Linked DNA regions of Homo sapiens. The protein of the gene in region 1 purifies or fractionates together with the protein of each later gene. This does not show direct contact. Each region holds a gene or a part of one and is shown on either strand. Other genes may lie near its edges.

Region 1 (3,824 bases):
AGACCAGCCTGGCCAACATGGCGAAACCTCGTCTCTACTGAAAATACAAGAATTAGCCAGGTGTGGTGGCGGGCGCCTGTAGTCCCAGCTACTCGGGAGGCTAAGGCAGGAGAATCGCTTGAACCTGGGAGGCAGAGGTTGCAGTGAGCCGAGATCGTACCACTTCACTCCAGCCTGGGTGACAATATCTGAGACTCTGTCTCAAAAAAAAAAAAAACAACTAGTTTTTAAATTTATATTTTTAGAACTTTATTCCTAAGTCAAACTCCTAGGGCCCTTGTTGTTAGTGTAGATTGAGTATCCCTTATTCGAAATGCTTGGGACCAGAATTGTTTCCATTTTTGGATTTTTTCAAATTGGAGATGCTCAATCTGTTTCAACTGCATATATGGAAATTTAGAGCTGAGAGAAACTTTATATTACCTCTGTCTAACCTTCTCATTTTCTAGGTGAGCATATTTAAGTTCAGAAAAACTCACCTGTTTAAAGTCATAAATTGGTAATAGACTCAAGACTGAAACCTGGGTCTTTTAATGATTATTATGTTATTCTTTGAATTACATCATACTGCACTGCTGTTATGCTGCATTATTTTGGGGAATAAAAGATTTATAATCTTGGGCTGGGCGCAGTGGCTCATGCCTGTAATCCCAGCACTTTGGGAGGCTGAGGCAGGTGGATCACAAAGTCAGCAGTTTGAGACCAGTCTGGCCAACATGGTGAGACCCCGTTTCTACTAAAACTACAAAAAAATTAGCCAGGCGTGGTGGCACGTGCAAATTAGCTATTTGGGAGACTGAGGCAGGAGAATCACTTGAACCCGGCAGGTAAAGGTTGCAGTGAGCCGAGATCGCGCCACTGCACTCCAGCCTGGGTGACAGAGTGAGATTCCATCTCAAAACAAACAAACAAAAAAAAGATTTATAATCTTTGTAATACTTGATTTTTAGTTTCATTTACTACTTAAAAAAGTTTTTCTAGCTGTGTGTAGATTGCTGTGTTAAAAAAAAACTGAGTGGTTTTTAAATACAGTAATGAGACTCTCAGATTCATCGTGATTTATTACAACAAACTCAGGCTGGGCACAGCGATTCACCCCTATAATCCCAGCACTTTGGGTGGTCGAGGCAGGAGGATCACTTGAGGCCAGGAGTTTGTGATCAGCCTGGACAACATAGTGAAATTTTGTCTCTCTAAAAAGTTTTTAATATTAGGCATGGTGGCATGTGCCTATAGTCCTAATAACATGAAAAGCTGGGGCAGGAGGGAGGATCGCATGAGCACAAGAGGTTGAGGCTGCAGTGAGCCATGATCATGCCACTGCACTCCAGCTAGGTGACAGGAGACCCTCTCTCAAAAAAACAAAACCGAATTTGTTAGTAAGCAATGTAACATGAAGTGGAGATAAGTCACAAAATGAGATATAAAAGCCCTATACAGAATTATATTACTGCTGCTAATATTGTTCCAGAATAACAAATTTAGATGTGACTCACTTATTCTTTTTTTTTTTTTGAGACGGAGTCTCGCTCTGTCGCCCAGGCTGGAGTGCAGTGGCGGGATCTCGGCTCACTGCAAGCTCCGCCTCCCGGGTTCACGCCATTCTCCTGCCTCAGCCTCCCAAGTAGCTGGGACTACAGGCGCCCGCCACTACGCCCGGCTAATTTTTTGTATTTTTTTAGTAGAGATGGGGTTTCACCGTTTTAGCCGGGATGGTCTCGATCTCCTGACCTCGTGATCCGCCCGCCTCGGCCTCCCAAAGTGCTGGGATTACAGGCGTGAGCCACCGCGCCCGGCCGTGACTCACTTATTCTTATGTAAAACCACCGGAAGTTGACTGTTTTTAATCCACAAGTCATGCTAATTTAAATACTTGCTGCCGGGTGCAGTGGCTCACACCTGTAAACCCAGCACTTTGGGAGGCTGAGGCAGGCAGATCACCTGAGGTCAGGGATTTTCTATATACTAGTAGTCTTTGGTGTCTCCACAAAACAAAGGATTCTTTGGTCCTTTGGGAGGGTGCTACACATGCTATCTGTCCTCTTTTCTAGTCATAATACATGTATGCACACTAAAGTCTGAAAAACAGAGGTAAATAAGATAGTTTACCTAGCATTTCCCAAACTTATTAATACACAAGGAAAGGATTATTTAACACCTGTTAATAGTTTATTATCTTAGTGTTTCAGGGGATGTGTTCAGGAAACACAACTTTACAAAAAGTCCAAGGGACTATCTAGAGCTTTTCCTACTCAGTATTTATTTGCAGAAAGGATAGTATAAAGCGGGCATTCACCCTTAGATACATTGTAACAAGATTAGGACTTCTGGTTATGAACTATCACCTAAGGCATAATTTACCATACTTTTTGTTCACTTTTTTTTTTCATATATCTTATTTTAGTTTTATACTGTAGGCAGTAAAGCCACCTGGTTTGTTTCTCTTTGCTTGGAAATATAATGGGTTGTTAGCTAGATCCCTTTTTATCATAGGAATAGAGTACTGGTACTAATTACATTTTAAAAATTTGTAGTGATTTGCAGTGTGAGACTTGCTTATAACTCCATAAATCAAGAGTTTGTAGACAGTTGAAACATAGCTATTTTTGGTTATATTCCTAAATGTACTACATGAGTTTCTATATGTATTGCAGTTGCAGAGGAGAGAACACCTAAATATAAAATAGTACCTTATACAGTGTACAGAATGAGATCTACCAAGAGTTACTGCAGTGAACATCACCATTGTTTTATCATAGCTTTTTAATACTATATTGACTTATAAAAAAAATGACTCATTTAATTGGAGTGTGGAGTAGTTTATTCCTTTCTCCCACTATTCATTGCCATATCTAAATGAGTGTGCCAGTTTTTACCTACCCTCTATTATGAAATTGAGTGGGCAAAGCAGGCATCTGTGCACTGTATTACTTAGAGTGTTCTCAGTTCAACCGAAGATAGCTTGTTTAAGGTTTATTGTGCTGTAACCAAACTATTTGCTTATGCTTATTCCTGTTACTTTTTTCAGTGCTAGACGTAGGTATGTCTGCGTAGTCATAAAGGGTGTCATATATCTTAAGGACAGACTACTCAGGTTTAACTACTCAATTTAGTGCCTCCTTAAACATTTACTTTGCACATCTAGGCAAATTAGACTTAGCAGGTAATTAGAAATTCTTTTTCTAAGGATTATTGTATGGTCTCAAAAACAATAAAGCTAAAGAAAAGGAAATAGATTCAAAGTAAGTTTTGCACTTAAAAATCACTTCTGGCTAGGCACAGTGGCTCATGCGTGTAATCCCAGCACTTTGGGAGGCCAAGGCAGGAGGATTGTTTGAGGCCAGGAGTTCAAGACCAGCCTGGTCAACAGAACAAGAACCTGCCCCTACTTAAAAAAAAAAAAAAAAACATTTCTATAATGAATTAGTTAAAAGAGAACAAGCATTTTTATAGTGGCTTTCATTCATAACATAGGACTAAAATGTATTTCATCATTTTATAAGATATATTGGGAGAATAAGGTAAAACTAAATAGCAGATTATTTTCTGTTTGGCTGACTGATTGATTACCTGTTACCTTCTTAGGCCTCTTTGCACCTCCACGTGCCTTCAGTGCAATCTGACGAGCTGCTTCACAGTAAACACTCCCACCCACTTGACTCAAATCAGACTTCAGATGTCCTCAGGTACAACTCTTTTACCATTAACAGTTTGTCACTGCAACTTTAAAAGAATATAATGTTGATTCTTATATATTTTTCTCATTTTTGGCAAGAATTTACAGTTGTGTACCAGTGGATCTCTAGATAAACACTGCTATTCTA
Region 2 (3,824 bases), on another chromosome or scaffold:
CAATGGAGTAGTGATATAGGCTACAATATGGATGCATCTCAAAACATTATGCTTAGTGAAAGAAGTCTGATGCAATATCCCACATATGGTATGTTTCCATTTACAGTCCAGAAAAGGCATATACTAAATTAGCAGTTGCATGGGTCTGATGTGAAAACATGGATTGCCTGCAGATGGGCACAAGGGATCTTTTGGGGGTGACAAAAATGTTCCAAAACTAAGTTGTAATTTTTGCACAACTTTTATGTGTGTGTGTGTGTGTGTGTGTGAGATGGAGTTTCACTCTTGTTGCCCAGGCTGGAGTGCAATGGCGCGATCTCAGCTCACCACAACCTCCGCCTCCTGGGTTGAAGCATTTCTCCTGCCTCAGCTTCCTGAGTAGCTGGGATTACAGGCATGTGCCACCATGCCCGGCTAATTTTGTATTTTTAGTAGAGACAGGTTTTCTCCAGGTTGGTCAGGCTGGTCTCGAACTCCTGACCTCAGGTGATCCTCCTGCCTCGGCCTCCCAAAGCGCTGGGATTACAGGCGTGAGCCACCACACCCAGCCATTTTTGCACAACTTTATAAACTTTAAAAATAATTGATTTATGCACTTAAAACAGGTAAAGTTTATGTGTATAAATTATACCTTAATAAAGCTATTAAAAGTCAAAGATTATAACAGGGCCTCTCTCTCTCTGACCTAGTGACCTAGGGTAAAGAGAAAAAGAAGCTAGCCAGGCACAGGGGCTCACACCTGTAATCCCAGCACTTTGGGAAGCCAAGATGGGCTGATTGCTTGAGTCCAGGAGTTTGAGACCAACTTGGGCAACATAGCAAAACCCTGTCTCCACCAAAAATAAAAAAAATTAGCCAGGCATGGCGGTGTATGCCTGGAGTCCCAGCTACTCAGGAGTCAGAGGTGGGAGGATCACTTGAGCCCAGGAGGCAGAGGTTGTAGGGAGCCAAGATTGCACCACTGCACTCCAGCCTGGGTGACAGAGCAAGACACTGTCTCAAAAATTAAAAATTAAAAAATGAGGGAAGCTGCTGTATCTCCACTTCTTCCCTCTCTGTGCCCAGAGATATCTCTTCAGTTATCTCACATGCCCTACAAGTCTAGAGACCTCAGGTGAGGAGCCAGTAGCTCAGTATAGAAACTAAGGATCCAAGTGGACAACTGCCACCAAGTCACCACAGGGCCAGCTGCTTTGGGAGGGTGCTGCATCTGCCTCCCATACACTTCTGCCAAGTTTATGTTAGTTTGGGAGGACTGAAGCAGAATTCAGTTCAAAGTACTGTGCTGGATTTTGGTTTCTAAATATTTTCCAATAGAAAAGAACCCAGGCTTCTTGAGAAAATAGCTAGGTTCTAAGGCTAGAGCCAAAAAAATGCAAGATAAGCCTGGAGCATCTTGTAGTACCAGAAACTAAGCAAGTGCTCAAAAACAAAAGGATAGAAGCATGTCAGACAGACACAGGAGCCAATCTGAAAGAGCTCCCTGGCCGGGCACGGTGGCTCACGCCTGTAATCCCAGCACTTTGGGAGACTGAGGTGGGAGGATGACTTGAGCCCAGGAGTTTGAGACCAGCCTGGGCAACATAGGGAGACCCCATCTCTACAAAAAAGTAAACAATTAGCCGGGCATGGTGGCACACGCCTATAGTCCCAGCTACTCAGGAGGGTGAAGATCACCTGAGACCAGGCGGTCAAGGCTTCAGTGAGCCATGATTGTGGCACTGCACTCCAGCCTAGGCAATAGAGTGAGACTGTCTCAAAAAATAAAATTTTAAAATAACTGAAGAGTATAACTGGATTGTTTGTAACACAAAGGATAAGTGCTTAAGATGATGGAAACCCTATTTATCCTGATGTGATTATTACACATTGCATGCCTGTACCAAAATATTTCATGTAACCCATAAATATATACATCTACTATGTACCCACAAAAATTAAAAAATGTTTACAGGAGTGAACCACCGCACCTGGCCAGTGGAGTCTTTTTAAGGTATTATTTAGCATCTTCTGCTTATAGTCATGTCCAAAAACCAGTTGATCTTCCTACTCATTAGGGGACAAGATCAATTCTCTAAAAAATTAACCTAGCCCAAGGTAAGTGGTACTATTCTGAAATCTGAAAATCTTTAGTAGCCTCACATTATAAGCCCTTCGTAGAAAAAGAAAAGTAAGCATTTCTAGAAGCACATTTTTGTTGGACTGAGGGTGGGGCAAGGAGCAGGGGTGACTTTCATCTGAAATGTACCTAGGCAGGCCAGAGTCTGAGTTAGGACTGGCTCCTGGGACTTTGCCATCCAGGCCAAGAAGCATGCTCCAGTGTGCATGCACTCTCATCAAAGCCCTAGTCAGGAATCCCAGCCACTCCTCTCCTGTGCAGCACAAGCTGAAGGATAAGGTGTGGGGCAGTGACTGCGTGGGGCTGCCTGTGTGATTCCTGATAAAGAAATGCCTTCATGAAATGTATTGTTCCCCAATAAAGCTCATTTTCTGTGAGAATTCATGTGTCCTTTTCCAAATTAAACTAGCAAAATATGAACTTTTGTAAAAGGTCCACACCCAGCCAGTTTTCTACTCTCTAAATGTTCAGGCCTTTGCCTGTCCTTCCCTCAGCAAAAATACTGTGTTTTGGAAAACATTACCAATAAAGGAGCTGGGAGGTGGAATTGGATCAAAATACCTTTAGATGAAAGCAGCAGCACAAGCCATTCCCTTTAAATGAGCTGGCCTCACCTCTGGGGCCTATGAAGAAAAGCCTGCTTCAAGGTGATAGTTTTCATTTTGCTTCCCAGCACCTCTGCAGTCATAACCAAAGTGAAGGACAATATTGCATGACTTCAGAAGAAAGCCATCCAGCCACCTTGCAACATGTTCAGGAAATTCTGGACTCCCTTGGGGCTTGCAAAACTCCCTATGTCTTGCAGACCAAAAGCAAGTTCTCAGTCACCTAGCTCTAGTTTGCATAATTAAAGAAAGTGGAAGCTGGTTCTTTTCTGGGTGACCCTTCACCCAACCAAGCTCATAAGGACTTGTGACAAAAATAAGAGCAATAAAATGAAGTTTTAACAGTGAAAACTTCTATCACTTAGATAAGCAGGAAAAGCCAGTCCCCTAGATGCCCATCTGACCCTACCTTACTGGGGTCATACAGCCAAAGCAGTGTCCACTTCAGGTACTGTAATGTTTTGAAGTTGACACATATAATTTAATGTAGTTTCATGTCATAAGTTATAAGACTTTTCAGAGAAACAATTTAGTAATATCTTCTGTAATACCCATCTTCATTTTTTATATGAAAAAGCATAGCCTATGATCTGTCACCTTGCTCACTCCCACATCCTTACCTCTTATCCTTCTCACATCGTCCCATTAACACATTATCCATCTTTGGGGGGAAAAAATACACTAAATTTTAGACAGAGTCACTTTCACTATGGCCACAATGGGAGAAAAGACAGTCCACCTTCAAAGTCAACCAGAATGACTCTTAACCTCTCTTGTCTGGGTTGGGCATCCAGATAAGATTTTCTTCGTACAAAGAGTCTTGCTACTAGGAAAAAGAGTTTGAAAATCACTAGTCTAACTAAATATCTCACTTTAAAAAAAGCACAAACTAAGACTCAATGAGGTTTATCTTCCACAAGATCAGCCAGTTTTAGCAGAGCAGTTGCTAAAACCCAGGTCTCAAACTCCTTGTCTATGGCTCATCTAACTAAGCAACAAAAAGCCCAATGAGCTCTGGAGAGAGAGAGGGAGCTAAAACAGGACTCAATCAAAACCCACTTGGGATTAGGGAAGCCACCCTCTGTGAGTGAGTTAAACTG

Evidence for each region.
Region 2: the proteins of MED13 (region 1) and RPAP2 purify together in Homo sapiens (affinity purification with mass spectrometry, with the first as the bait; one large-scale study listed by BioGRID). This does not show direct contact.

What each region holds. Positions count from the first base shown.
Region 1 is NC_000017.11:61,946,779-61,950,602, reverse strand, and holds part of MED13 (mediator of RNA polymerase II transcription subunit 13), read left to right. Parts: intron 1-3,585; coding exon 3,586-3,686; intron 3,687-3,824. UniProt on the Homo sapiens protein: Component of the Mediator complex, a coactivator involved in the regulated transcription of nearly all RNA polymerase II-dependent genes.
Region 2 is NC_000001.11:92,396,390-92,400,213, forward strand, and holds part of RPAP2 (putative RNA polymerase II subunit B1 CTD phosphatase RPAP2), read left to right. Parts: 3' UTR 1-3,824.